Homo sapiens: one gene and its partners. The protein of the gene in region 4 purifies or fractionates together with the protein of the main gene of each other region. This does not show direct contact. Each region holds a gene or a part of one and is shown on either strand. Other genes may lie near its edges.

Region 1 (2,237 bases), on a different chromosome or scaffold from region 4:
GAAGATTATGGAGCCATGAGTGGAGTCTGAAGCCACGGATGAAGTCATCCAGGGAGCAAGTACATAGAAAAGAGGGTAGACAGATGCAGGCATATGGGTAAGAGTCAGCAAGAGACGGAGTCTTGCTCTGTCGCCCAGGCTGGAGTGCAGTGGCGCGATCTTGGCTCACTGCAAGCTCCACCTCCCAGCTTCACACCATTCTCCTGCCTCAGCCTCCCAAGTAGCTGGGACTACAAGCGCCCGCCACCACACCCGGCTAATTTTTTTGTATTTTTAGTAGAGACGGGGTTTCGCCGTGTTAGCCAGGATGGTCTCGGTCTCCTGACCTCGTGATCTGCCCGCCTTGGCCTCCCAAAGTGTTGGGATTACAGGCGTGAGCCACCGCGCCCAGCAACAAAACCTATACTCTTAACCTAGCCCCCTGAGAAGCACAGCAAGCTACTGAACCTCTGTGGGCCTGTGTCCTGGTTATCTACTGATACAACAAATCACTCCAAAAGTTAGCATCTTCAAACAACGTTTTATTATCTCTCATGGTGCTGGGCTTTGAATGGCATCAGTGAGGCAGTTCTTACTTTGTTCTCAGACGGTGGCTGGGCTGGAGTCATCTTGAAGCCTTCCTCTCTCATGTCTGACATTTGATACTGCTGTCAGCTGAACATGTACACGTGGCCTCTCTGTGTGGCCTGGGCTGCTTCACAGCATGGTGGTTGGGTCCCAAGAGCTAGAGTCCCAAGAGATAATAAGTGGAAGCTGCTAGTGCTTCAGTCTGGGACTGGGAGACTGGCAGAGCACCACCACCATCATATGCTATTGATCGGTCACAGAGTTTAGATAAAGGCGAGGATAGGATAGAGATGCCACCTTTACTTGGGGCCATGCTTTTAAACCTCATCTACAAAATCTATAGAATAGACATAACCACACAGTGGATGCCTGTTTTTGTTAGCCAAGCCTTGCTCTCCTTTTGGGGATTCTCCCCTCTGTCCCTCTATTCTCACAGGCCCTATGGCCATGCTCTACCACTTCTTGGAACCTGCCCGAAAACCAGATTTTTTCCCCTTGAGTTGGGGTCTCGCTTTGTCACCCAGGCTGGAGTGCAGCGGCAGGATCATGGCTCACCGCAGCATTAACCTCCTAGGTGCAAATGATCTCCCACTGTAGTCCCCCAAGTAGCGGGGACTACAGGCACGTGTCACCATGCCTGGCTAACCGGATTCTCGATGGCAGCTTTTGAACCCAAGTCCCCATGTCTGAAGATCCCTGGACTTTACAATTTGTGAGCCAATAAACTTCCTCCCACTAAGCAGGACTGAATTCAGTTTCTGTAACTTGTAACCAGAAGTCCTTACTACACCTACTGAGGGTGGTTGTGGAGATTAAGTAAATGTAAAATGTGCTTTTTAACAGCAGGTGTTCAGGAAATGGTTTACTGTTATGGAGGAAGTTTATTATGAAGAATCTGGCTACTGGTGGAGGGATTTTGATTTGCCTAAAACCTCAATCAATCAATGATCTGGTTGGGATGAAAACCAAGGATGCCTGGCTCAGAATCTTTTGCTCTGCTTTGCCTTCTCTATTTCTGTGGTCTTGTCAGACAGGCCTACTGCATATAACATCCTATGGGGCAGGTTATGACCTTACGGGTCAACCTGGCCAGGGATGGCAAATACCTGACGCTCACGTGCCCACACTTGAATTCCATGCTCATAAGAGAAACTGCCAAACTATCATGTCAGTATTTCCAAACAGTCTGAAAATTGCTGCAGATCCTCAAAAGGCACTCCAGGCAGCTGCTACTAAAAGTTCTGAGTTGGCAAGTGAAATGAGTCCTGAGGTAGATTTTTTAAATATGGCCATATTTTGAAGCTCCTCCTGTTAAGAAGAATTTGGGCTTAGCCATGTGACTTACTTTGGCCAAAAGATACGTCATAGCAATATCCTCAAGAGCACTCGCATACTGGGCTTGTCTTCTCTTGCGGTTTTTGGAACTCAGCCATGATGTCTAGAATCCTGGGTCAGCCTGCTAGATGCTGGAACGTGTGGCCCAGTTGCCCAGCCAACCACCTGACAGGCGGGCGAGGCCATCTGAGACCAGCCAGTCCCCAGCTGATCTGCCAGCTCACTTCAGCCACACGAGGGCCCAGATGAGATAAGAACCACCACACTGAACACAGCCCAAACTGCCAAGCCACTCACTCAGGAGCTAATAAATGTTTATTAAGGCTACTAAATTT
Region 2 (3,500 bases), on a different chromosome or scaffold from region 4:
CTCATATGGCTACCCTACCACTTATACAGTTCTCACAATACTCATTCTGATAAGCAAATCTTACATCATTCTTCTGAGCTAAAGTTTTCAATGGCTCCTATTTGCAAAGAGGATAAAATCTAATCTCCATGGTATAGCACACAAAGCCTGCTGTGACCTAGCCCACTGTCTATCACTGTCCAATCCCATTGACCACCAGTATCTGATAACATTTTATATACCAAATGATAGAAAGCTGCTTATAATTTCTTGAACACTACTGGCTCTCTCATACTTTTGTATATGTAAAATGGCCATTTCCTCTGCCTGATTCATGTAAGGAAAGCAAATGCCTATTCATGCTTAACCTCTCAACTGCAGTCTTCTTTATATAATCTCATTCTACAAAGCAGTCCCTCATTCCTCTACAATACTTTGTACATTTTCTACCAATAAACTTATTGCATTTTAGTGCAGCAGTTTGCTCTCATCTCTCTCTCCTCAGTGTTTATCTTCTTAAAGACAGAAAATGTCTTTTCAGTTTATTTTTCAATCCTCAGTACTAAGTGTAGTCAGCTGGCACATAGGTAGGCATGCCAATAATTATCTGCTTTTTCAACAAATAAGTTATGAAGGTGATATATAAATACATGAAAAAGAATAGCTTCTCCTAAAGTAATTGTGGAGAATGAATAGCTACTTTAGGAATGATAGGGAGCTAATGATAATCATAGTGGCCCACACATCATATGTTATGTACCCAGCTTGTGCTTCATACATTATCACAAAAACAGTATGGGATGGATGTTATAATGAAACTCATTTTGTAGATGAATAAATAAGGCACAAAATGTTAAAAAGTTTGCTCAAGGTCACAGTAACTGACAAAGACAAGACAAAGAGAGATCTATACTAACCACTATTCTACTCTGCTTTTCAATACAGGCAAATGTTAAATCATCACTGCTATTTCTAGGGCTTTGCTATCCCTTACTGCTATTTAACTGCTTTCCTCTTTCTCCACTTTCACTTTTCTCTGTGTTTTTAGGCTCTTCTTTCTTCATTTTCTTTCTTCCTTTCACTTTCTTTTCCTTTAATTCTCTATTCAATTTCCATAATGAACATAACCTATACTATACGATCAAGTATTTCCTCCTAAAATACCTTCTCTTTTCTTTTTTTAATCAAGGAAAACAAAGAAGAAATAGTTAGAAAAGAGGTGAGTTAGGACTGCATACATTACCTCCTGAAAGAAGTTGCAAGAAACAGAGAAAACTAAGAACAGACCTTTGAATATGGCAAAAGAAAAACCTGTGATAACTGAGAGAGCAATATTTTAGCTAAATTATGGAAGAAAAAGCTGTAAGGAATACTAATGCTTAGTAAGAAAATGAAGCCAATTGCTGAAGACCATTATTTGAAAAACTTAACATAAAACACATAAAAAACTAAGATCGCAGCTGGAAAGGATAGTTGAATCAAATGAAGGTGCGGGGGGGCTCGTGATTTGCTTTTTGTTTGTTTAAAGAAATCTGAGCATAAATGGCCAGGCATGGTTGCACATGCCTGTAATCCCAGCACTTTGGGAGACTGCAGCAGGTAGATCACTTGAGCTCATGAGTTCAAGACCAGCCTGGCCAACATGGCAAAACCCCGTCTCTACTGAAAATACAAAAAAAAAAAAAAAAAATGAGCCAGGCGTGGCAGCACATGCCTGTAGTCCCAGCTATTCTGGTGGCTGAGGCAAGAGAATCACCTGAACCCAGGAGGCAGAGGTTGCAGTGAGACAAGATCATGTCTCTGCACTCCAGCCTGGGTGACAGAACGAGACTCTGTCTCAAAAAAAAAAAAAAAAAAAAAATCTGTGCATAAGTAACTGTAAAAAGTTAAACTAGTTTCTCTACTGCAGAAAACAAAACTGTTAGTTCTATGACCGCAAGAACTTTGTCTGTCTTGTTCACTGCTATCACACCCAAGGCTTGGCACATAGTAGATACTCAACTACTATAAATACAATTATTCTGATAAAAAAAAAACTATAAATTGTATATAGTCCAAGCTGGGTGCGGTGGCTCACGCATGTAATCCCAGCACTTTGGGAAGCTGAGGGATGTGGATCATTTGAGGTCAGGAGTTTGAGACCAGCCTGGCCAACATGGTGAAACCCCATCTCTACTAAAAATACAAAAAAAATTACCTGGGCATGGTGGCGCACACCTGTAATCTCAGCTACTCAGGAGGCTGAGGCAGGAGAATTGTATGAACCCGGGAAGGGGAGGTTGCAGTGAGCCGAGATGTGCCACTGCGCTCCAGCCTGGGCAACAGAGCAAAACTCCGTCTCAAAAAAAAAAAAATTGTATACTCCATTTTTAAGTTACAGTTTAATTTTATATCTTCTACCAACTGAATGAGTGCTGGATTAAACATTCATTCATTCATTCATTCATTCATTCATTCAAATATTTGTAGAGTACGTACTATTTTCCAGGTACTATACTCTAGGCAATGGGAATGTAGCAATGGACAAAACAAAACCATCTTTGCTCTAATGAGAGGCACTGAACACACATCACACACACACACACAAAAAAAAGATGCTAAGAGTGATATGTCCTAAAATGAATACAAAAGCATAATAATGATATTTAGTGATAATAGGAAGTGGTAGTAATATTTTATATAGGATGGTCATGGAAGGTCTCTCTGTTTAGATGATGTTCGAATGAGAAAGTGAGCAAGGCAAGTAAGCAAACAGTACTACTACAGACCTATGCAACAGTAAATCCAAAGACCTGAGGAGGGAGAGTGCTTAGTGTGTATGAGGAAGATCAAGGAGGCTGCCAAGGCTGAAGTAAAGGAAGCAAAGGAAAGCATAACAGAACCAGCTATAATAGATCCATATTTCATCTACAACAATTGTAACAGTACCTAATCATTAATGGAGTCTTTCATACATGGATAGTTTTTAAACTAATATGTGAAGGGGCAGAAATTTAGAAAAATTTCAAATTCATTACCTTGCAAAAATTCTCCGTTTTGGTTATTTTCCCTTATATAACCAAAACTTCTGATTGTTCCAATAATGCAAACAAAACCCTGAAGTACAAGGTACTATTCTATGAGTTAAAAATGCTACACATTACAAGAACTTTAATATCCATGAGTCTCACGTATGATACAACACCAAATTCCTCACGGAAAGCAGTGTCCTGCTCATATGTGGATATCTTTTGGACAAGTCTGCTGGGATATCGTTTGGACAAGACATCGAGTGGAGCACTAGTGTTCAATTCTAAGAGTTAGAAGTTAAGAGGAATACACATTAGTGTAATTCTAATTTTCTAATCATGTCCCTTTCTTACCTGACAATAACTTAGTATGGTATAAAAGAATTCAACTGTTCCCATATATGCCACAGTACCTATCACAGGTTAATATGCATAATAAACATCTGATACCATTAAGTCAAGATTTTTTTTTGGCTGGGCACAGTGGTTCACGCCTGTAATCCCAGCACTTTG
Region 3 (3,500 bases), on a different chromosome or scaffold from region 4:
TGGAAGGCCGAGGCGGGCGGATCACCTGAGGTCAGGAGTTCGAGACCAGCCTCAACATGGAGAAACCCTGTCTCTACTAAAAATACAAAATTAGTCAGGCGTGGTGGTGCATGCATGTAATCCCAGCTACTCGGGAGGCTGAGGCAGGAGAGTGGCTTGAACCTGGGAGGCGGAGATGGCGGTGAGCCGAGATCGTGCCATTGCACTCCAGCCTGGGCAACAAGAGCGAAACTCCGTCTCAAAAAAAAAAAAAAGAAATGCATCTGGTGTCTTCAAAGAATAGCAAGAAGGCATGAGCTGGGGCGGAGTGAGGAAGTGGGAGATGGGAGATGAGGAGGTAAGAGATGTAATGGCTCAGGTTGGAGTCAGATGATGTGGGTTATGGAGCCACTGTAAGGCCTTTGCATTTCACTCTGCAACAAATGGGAGTCACTGGAAGGTTCTGATGAGAGGACCGAAATGAACGGACGCACAATTTAAAAGGATCTCTCTGGCTGCTGTGTGGAGAACAGACAGTGGGGAGATAAGAGCGGACACAGGAGGAACAGTGACAAGGTTACTGCAGAGATCCAGACAGAGCTGGGGGGCAGCGCAGGTGGCAAGAGGTACTGGAATTCTGGGTATTTCTTCAATGGTGCCAGCAGGATTTCTTGACATCTTAGATGTGGGATGTGAGAGAAAGAAAAAGCATGGTTCCTGAGGTATTTAGTTGGAAAAACTGGAGGTGGAGAGGGCCGAGGGAGAAGACAGGAAGCTCAGATTTGCACGGAGTAAGCGTGAGGCACCCAGGAGGCAGCAAGTGGAGATGTCCAGCGGGCAGCAGAGTAAGTAGGTCTAAGTTCAGGGGAGAAGTGTAATCTGGAGATTATCCGTGGGAGTTGTCAGACAGAGATTATATTTAAAGTCATGCGATGTGATGAGATCACCAGGGAAGTGAAGGTAAATAAAGAGATCCAAGGACTGTGGTGTGAAGAGGTCAGAAAGGACTGAAGGCACAGCAAAGTGGGCTGGGGAGTGACTGGTGGGTGCAAAACCAGGAGAGAGTGGCATCCTGAAAGATGAGAGGTAAATCTATTGGTAGCCCGACTGGCCAAAAGGAAGACACCTTGGTAGCCGGTCACTTCCATTTCTGGATAGTGAAGCGGGAGGAGGTGGATTTAACAGCAATGATGGTGGTAGCAAGAGGAACAACACGTTAAACCTCCCCTCCTTGGGAAACCGTTTATTCCTGCAAAGCTGCTAGTGCAGACTGATGGTTCTGCACCAATGGAACACATCAAAATCACCTGGAGAGCTTCTTATAAAGACAAATACTATCCTCCTTCTAGAGGTTCTGATCCAGGAGGTCCAGCATAAGGCTGGGCGTGGGATTCAGCATGGCTCTGGGTGTGGACTTCATGCTGGACGGACACCAGGCTGTGGCTGTACATGAGGCCGTGAGCCATTTCCTTCCCTGCACCCTTCTTTACCCTCCTGTGCCTGCCCTCGGGCCTAGGTGATCTGTGATGTTCCCCGGTGAAGATCTGATATGGGTTTTTCTCAGAAAATTGAATACCAAGGAATCTCTCTTCCCTTTTAACTATAATTCTCACTATCACTATTTTTCCTTCATGCTTAACATAAATAATGAAAACAAAAATTAATATGTAGCTTTTATAGAATTCTAGTTCCTAATAACAAACTATCCCTAATTTGTTAAATATAAGGCAACCTTTAGGGCAAGCTGCCGCCATCACGGTCTCATTTTAGAATTGGTTACTTTATTATTTATTTATTTATTTTGAGACAGGGTCTCACTCTGTCACCCAGGCTGGAGTGCAGTGGTGCAATCATAGCTCACTGCAGCCTTGACGTCCTGGGCTCAGGTGATCCTCCCACCTCAGCCTCCCGAGCAGCTAGGACTACAGGCGTCTGCCACCATGTCCAGCTAGTTTCTGTTTTTTTAAATTTTTGTACTGGTTGTAGAGACAGGGTTTCACTCTATTGCCCAGGCTGGTCTCGAACTCCCGGGCTCAAGTGATCTGCCCACCCTGGCCTCCAAAATGCTGGGATTACAGGTGTGATTCCCTGCACCCAGCCAAAAATATGGTTACTCTATAAAATATAAGTATTATCATGTATAAGAACTGGATAGTCTGAAAAATGATTTATCCAATGCGCTTATTATGCGGAAGCTGAGGTCCAGAGGGGAAATAACTTGCCCAGGTTGCATGGCAGATGCTGGCAGCAGAAACAAGTCCGGGAGAACTCAAAGCAGGAGCAGCCTCCAGGGCACTGGCCAGCTTTCCACTCACCACTCTTTTCTAGCCATTTTTCTTGAAGTATGACACCAATTAATGTCTGCAGAGAAATGATATCTTGGAGGCCCCCCCACTTTTTTCCTTTAAATAAAAACTTGACCTTTACACTATGAAGTTCTATACTACAATAACCTTAAGGTTACTCTAAGTACAAGTGATCAAGAATGCTGTGGAGGCCTCACAAAAGATGTCTTCCTTTGTAGGCGAGGAAAAAGGAGAGAGAGGGAGAGGGGAACCCTAACATCTTAAGAATTTCCATTATATACAAGGAATTGGGCTAGATGCTGGCCTAAGCTTGCCACATCAGAGAATATTCTACCTCATTTCTCACGACAATAGTGTGATTCAGACATCCTATGCACATTCCGCAGACGGAAGAATCAGATTCTGGGATGTCATTCAAAGCCACCCCATCTTTCCAGCAAGGGAAGCAGCAGGAGTTCTTGACGCCAACTACTTATCTGCACACTCCAGTTAAACCCACCGAAATCCTGGCACTGGAAGCGCCCACTGCATGTTACCCATGATGGGGAGAACAATGGCTGCCAAAGATGTCTCATTCTAATCCCCAGAAGCTGTGAGAAGGTCTAATAAAAAATGCTGCTATCTTTAGTATCTATTTATTGAGCACCTACTACTGTGAATATGTTACCTCACATGGTGCAGGGACTTTGCTGATATGATTAAGTTAAGGATCTTGAGAGATGCAGGCATGATCCTGGAATATTTGGTTGGCCCAATGTCATCACAAGGCTCCCTATAAGAGATGGAAGGAGGCAGAAGAGGCAGAGCCAGAGAAACAGATGTGGGAACAAGCAGAGGTTGGAGTGATGCTGGGCTGTGAGCTGCAGCCCCTAGCAGCTGGAAAGGGCAGGGAAAGGGGCTCTGCCCTAGAGCCTCCAGAAGGAAGGCCCACTTGTTCTAGACTTCTGACCTCCAGAACTCTAAGATAATATATCTGTGTTGCTTTAAGCTACTCAAATATGTAGTAATTTGTTATAACAGCAATAGGAAATGAATACAACACTGTTTCCTCTACTTAAAAGGGATTTCAAGTTGTACTATAGTGGCATAAGAAATACCAACTGGATTTGATAATCTGTGTTCCTCTGCACCCAGAATTAAAAATCAAACAAACAAACATACAGACTAATCAGGAATGCCACATTAGCATTCTCACAAAAACAGCTGATCTCAAAT
Region 4 (5,428 bases):
TGGCCAGGCTGGTCTCGAACCCCTGACCTCAGGTGATCCACCTGCCTTGGCCTCCCAAAGTGCTGAGATTACAGGCGCCAGATCATATTTTTTTTTTATTGAGACAGAGTCTCACTCTGTCGCCCTGGCTGGAGTGCAATGGCGCAATCTCGGCTCACCACAACCTCCGCCTCCCAGGTTCAAGTGATTCTTCTGCCTCAGCCTCCCACGTAGCTGGGATTACAGGCATGCGCCACCATGCCCAGCTAATTTTGTATTTTTAGTAGAGATGGGGTTTCTCCATGTTGGTCAGGCTGGTCTCGAACTCCCGACCTCAGGTGACCTGCCTGCCTCGACCTCCCAAAGTTCTGGGATTACAGGTGTGAGCCACCACGCCCAGCTGAGAGATCATATTCTAAGAACTGGGACGGAGAGGTGACATTGAGCAAGTTACTTCCCCTTCTGGAGCTTCTCAGGGCCTCCCTCTCCCTTACACAAGGGATGTGGGCCAGATTTTTTCTGGGACTTATAATTCACTACAGCAGGGAGAGAATCAGAGGTGGGGATTCAGAGTGCATAGGTTCTCAGAAGGAGGCAGAAGACTTACCTGAGCAGAGTAACATTGGCTGGGGAAACCTCGGTGACACCTGGTGGCAGAGGCCAGGACTGGGCCGGGCCAAGCCCCACCTGGCAATAATAGGGATTGGGGGCTGTCCTGATGGCAGAGGTTCGAAGCTTGCTCAGCTCAAGCTCAGGGCTCGGCAGCCTCATCTCCTGCAGGCCCTGCCACTTCTTCTGCTTCACTGGGGGTGGGAAGAATAACGGCACACCCTCCACCTGCCCATCAACTCTCCCTCCCCCACCTGCCCAGGACACCCCTCCAGATGCTCATTAAGGTAAACGTTTTCCCCAGGCCTCCCCAGCTCCTTCCTATCTTAGAATCCCAGAGGAGTCTACCACGGCTCTGCTGCGGTGAGTGGTCTTGAAGTCAGCCCCGGGACCCCGCAGAAACCCATCCCAGCTCACTGGAGAGGAGCAGCCTTGAATCAACTGTGCCTGCTAGACGCTTCGTACCCAGAATCAGGACCCCACACACCATAAGGAGGCTCAGTGTTGAGGTTGCCACCACAGCCACCATCAGAACCAGAGGGCCTGGGGGCTTGTGCAGGTCTAGGGAGAAAGAGAGACACCTCCAGTGGGAAGGTCTTCTCTGTTCCTTTACCCTCAAGTTTTACCCACGCTTCAAGACTCAGCTCAAGTGTTAATTTTTCCATGATGCCTTCCCCCATTATCCTGGGCAAAAGCAACCTCTCCCTCTTGAACACCCCTAAAGCACTTTATACCTCCCACAACAATCGTCACTTGAGATATACATTTACATAGCTATATCTAAACATCCTCCCACACTGGACGACAGGCCTCTGAAAGGCACTGTGCACCGATGAATCTCCAATCCCCTGCCCAGCACCCACCACAGGGCCTGGCACACAGCAAATCTCTATACCATCTTTCCCAGTGGCCTACTGCTCCTCCCAGTCTGTGACCCCAGGAGTCCAGACCTTGGGCAAAGGTAGGACATACCCATGCAGGTGACGTTATCCACAGCTAGCTCCATGCCTTCTGGGCACAGGCATTCAGCCAGCTGGAGCTCTGCCTGCCATTGGCAGTCTCTCAAAGGGCAGTGACTGCAGTTGAGGTGCCTTCGGATCTCTACCTCTCCGTGGTTCTCGGTGACTGTGAGTAAAAGAACTGATATGATATGGTGTGGTAGGGCTGGGATATAGTAAATACATGCCTTTGGCTGGGTACAGTGGCACACGCCTATAATCATTGCACTTTGGGAGGCCGTGGTGAGCGGATCACCGGAGGTCAGAAGTTCAAGACCAGCCTGGCCAACCCCGCCTCTACTAAAAATACAAAATTAGCCGGGTGTGGTGGCGCACGCCTGCAATCCCAGCTACTCCAGCACTGAGGCTGCAGAATCACTTGAACCCGGGAGGCGGAGGTTGCAGTGACCCAAGATCGCACCACTGCACTCCAGCCTGGGTGACAGAGCGAGACTCTGTCTCAAAAATAAAAATAAATAAATAAATAAATAAATAAATAAATAAATAAATACATGCCTTTTCCAGCCACATGGTTAATTCTAGCCCAGGACTTTAGAGCAAAGAGCAGCACCAAGCTTACAAGGGTGGTGAGAGAAGCTGGGGGACTTCTGTCAAGCCTGCACACTCCCAGGTATTTGAAGCGAATTCATAGCAAGGGGGTACTTGAAAAGCACGCAGCATGCCCTGCATTGCCATCCAGCACGACTGGCAGCCCACTTTCCTTTTTTTTAAGACAGAGTTTTGCTCTTGTCGCCCAGGCTGGAGTGCAATGGCATGATGACAGCCCACTTTTCAAATGACCCTATGCTATGCAAGAATCCTGTGCTATGCAAGGTTATTCACAGTGCAGGTGGCTCTTCAGTGCAGTGCAGGAGTGGGCTCAGGGACTGCGGAAGAAGTCCAGGCCAGGCTCAGAGGTGGGGTTGGGGCCAATACCTGCCAGAGGCTGCAGGAAGAGCTCGCTGCTGGGGTGTATGAAGGATACTCCATCTTCCCCATCAGCCCAGAGGTTGTCAGTCTCTGAAGCGTCGCCCCCTGGAAGTGGAGAGTGATGGAGAGTTTGACTACAAAAATGGGGGATGGGGGAGAAGCTGGAATCTCCCGGTGGAAATCCCAGTGTGGCCCTCTCTTCTCCAGCATCATGATGCAAATGCTGTCTGTTCACAAGTGGGAGTGAAGGAGGTGAGGAGGGGGTAATCAGCTGGAGCCTGAAGGCCTCGCTGAGGCTGGCTGGGATGCCTCCTGCCTGCCTGAGCCCCTCCTGTCCCATGTCCTCACAGTCCCTTTCTGTGAGAATGTAGATCATGTGTGTATGTATGAGCAGTACAGCCCAGACAGGCACAAAGGCATTTACACTAGTTATTTGATCAAAACACAGATGACTGGGACTCTCCCTTACAGTTTCTGATTCAGTATGTTAGAGAAGGGCTGAGAATTCGCATTTCTTTTTAAAAATTAATTTTTAATTAAAAATAAAAATTCAGGGCCAGGTGTGGTGGCTCACGCCTGTAATCCCAGCACTTTGGGAGGCCGACATGGGCGGATTACGAGGTCAGGAGTCCGAGACTAGCCTGACCAACATGGTGAAACCCCATCTCTACTAAAAATACAAAAATTAGCCGGGCATGGTGGCGCATGCCTATAATCCCAGCTACTCAGGAGGCTGAGGCAGGAGAATTGCTTGAACCCGGGAGGCGGAGGTTGCAGTGAGCTGAGATTTGTACTACTGCACTCCAGCCTGGGCAACAGAGCCAGACTCCATCTAAAAAAAAAATTCATATATTTATTGTATACAGCATGATGTTTTGAAATATGTACACACTGTGCAATGGCTAATGCAAACCAATATATACACCACCTCACATGCTTATTTTCTGTGGTAAGAACACCTATAATCTACGCTCTTACCAATTTTCTTTTCTTTTTTTTTGAGACAGAGTCTTGCTCTGTCACCCAGGCTGGAGTGCAGTGGCACGATCTTGGCTCACTGCAACCTCCGCCTCCCGGGTTCAAGCGATTTTCCTGTCTCAGCTTCCCGAGTAGCTGGGACTACAGGCATATGCCACCACGCCCGGCTAATTTTTGTATTTTTAGTACAGATGGGGGTTTCACCATATTGGCCAGGCTGGCCTCAAACTCCTGACCTCAAGATCCACCCGCCTCCGCCGCCCAAAGTGTTGAGATTACAGGCGTGAGCCACCGCGCCCCGCCTCTCTTAGCGATTTTCAAGAATACATCGTCATTAACTACAGTCACCATGTAGTACAGTAGATTCTGGAAGGTATTCCTCCTATTTAACTGCCATTTTGCATTGTTTTGACCAGCATCTCCCCAACCTTCCCCCAACTCCCAGGATAATTTCCATTGTTTTTTTTTTAATCTTTGAGACAGAATTTCCCTCTTGTCGCCCAGGCTGAAGTGCAATGGAGTGATCTCGGCTCACTGCAACCTCCGCCTCCCAGGTTCAAGCAATTCTCCTGCCTCAGCCTCCAGAGTAGCTGGGATTACAGGCTCCCGCCACCACGCCCGGCTAATTTTTGTATTTTTAGTACAGACAGGGTTTCACAGGTTGGCCAGACTGGTCTCGAACTGGTGACCTCAGGTGATCCACCTGCCTTGGCCTCCCAGAGTGCTAGAATTACAGGCGTGAGCCACCAGGCCCAGCTGATAATGTGCATTTCGAACAACTTAGGTTGTGGGGATATTACCTGTTCCTGGACCACACTTTGAGAACCACTGACTTAACCCAATCCTGCCTTTCTGCCCCTTTGCTCAGCTTGCTCACTCGGCCAGCTCTAAGTTCTGAAGACTGCTGCAGAACAAGGCAGGGACCTGCTGTGATGGGAAAGATCCTGGATTAAACGGAAATCTAGGGAGTCCTGTCTGCATGCTGATTTGCAGTGTATTTGACCTCCTTTTCTAAGAGCTCCTGCTTTTTGTTTGGAGCTGCTGAGCAGGGCTTAATGCCTCTCCCACACCTATCCTCCCGAGGGCTCCGGCCTGTACTTAGGTTCTAACATCACCTCACCCTCGGGCCTGCTCAGCTGCCCTCTCCAACGGTGCACCTACCCCTGTAGCCGCCGCCGCCTCCGCCCGCAGTGCAGGCCCCGCCGCCGCCCCCGAAGCCGCCGGCCGCGGCCCAGCCAAGGGTCGCCCAAGCCTCGGAGCAGCCCTGGCCGCCCTCCGCCCCCTCCTGCAGTGAGCGGCCGGCCTGCGGAGAGGGAGCCCGCGACGTCCAGCCGCCCCCACCACCTGCAGAGCGACAGCAGGAAGGTTGGCAGCCACACGGGGAGCACGCCCGCCTCTCCCCGCGGCCCGCGCCCTCACCTGCCGCCCCGCCTCTCCCGCCGCTCCCGGGCGCCTCCGAGCGGTTCTCCAGTTTCTCGGGGGAGGCCTGAGTCCGGCCTCGGTCCCGCGGCCTCAGGTAGGCCCGACCGCCGCCTCCGGCCGCCACCAGCAACGGTTCCAGCTCGCCAGCGCGCACCTGTGGGGCCAGCGGCGTGTTCCAGGAAGCGCCCTCCAGCTGTCCAGGGGCACTGCCACTGGGAGAGGGCTCCCGCCCAGGGGGCCTGGATAAGGGCAGGGGCCCCCAGCCCAGCCCAGGCCAGCCCAGCCCAGCGCAGGGATAGGGGGACCCCAAGGGACGGACGGAGAGCCGGTGCGTGAGCGCCCCTGGGGAGAGGATTGGGACCCCAACGCTGAGCGCCGAAGGGAGCACGTACCCGGAAAACGTAGGTGGCGCCCCCGCCACCCCCGCCACCTCCCGCCCAGCGCCGCGACCCCGGGACCCCTTCGCTCCCATCCATCGCCGCGTGCTCTTCAACGGCTCGAGACTCCCCGAG

What was found. Proteins that work in one complex are often made in the same cells at the same time.
Region 1: the proteins of LTK (region 4) and RALY purify together in Homo sapiens (affinity purification with mass spectrometry; one large-scale study listed by BioGRID and IntAct). This does not show direct contact.
Region 2: the proteins of LTK (region 4) and MRPL1 purify together in Homo sapiens (affinity purification with mass spectrometry; one large-scale study listed by BioGRID and IntAct). This does not show direct contact.
Region 3: the proteins of LTK (region 4) and SFXN1 purify together in Homo sapiens (affinity purification with mass spectrometry; one large-scale study listed by BioGRID and IntAct). This does not show direct contact.

The regions. Positions count from the first base shown.
Region 1 is NC_000020.11:34,083,148-34,085,384, reverse strand, and holds the end of RALY (RNA-binding protein Raly), read right to left. Parts: 3' UTR 501-2,237; downstream 1-500. UniProt on the Homo sapiens protein: RNA-binding protein that acts as a transcriptional cofactor for cholesterol biosynthetic genes in the liver. Binds the lipid-responsive non-coding RNA LeXis and is required for LeXis-mediated effect on cholesterogenesis.
Region 2 is NC_000004.12:77,897,330-77,900,829, reverse strand, and holds part of MRPL1 (large ribosomal subunit protein uL1m precursor), read right to left. Parts: intron 1-3,500.
Region 3 is NC_000005.10:175,485,060-175,488,559, reverse strand, and holds part of SFXN1 (sideroflexin-1), read right to left. Parts: intron 1-3,500. UniProt on the Homo sapiens protein: Amino acid transporter importing serine, an essential substrate of the mitochondrial branch of the one-carbon pathway, into mitochondria.
Region 4 is NC_000015.10:41,506,509-41,511,936, forward strand, and holds part of LTK (leukocyte tyrosine kinase receptor isoform 1 precursor), read right to left. Parts: coding exon 5,309-5,428; intron 5,071-5,308; coding exon 4,914-5,070; intron 4,901-4,913; exon of another isoform or gene 4,839-4,900; coding exon 4,656-4,838; intron 2,622-4,655; coding exon 2,523-2,621; intron 1,729-2,522; coding exon of another isoform or gene 1,714-1,728; coding exon 1,561-1,713; intron 1,150-1,560; coding exon 1,054-1,149; coding exon of another isoform or gene 1,006-1,053; intron 956-1,005; exon of another isoform or gene 937-955; intron 783-936; coding exon 587-782; intron 1-586. UniProt on the Homo sapiens protein: Receptor with a tyrosine-protein kinase activity. Following activation by ALKAL1 or ALKAL2 ligands at the cell surface, transduces an extracellular signal into an intracellular response.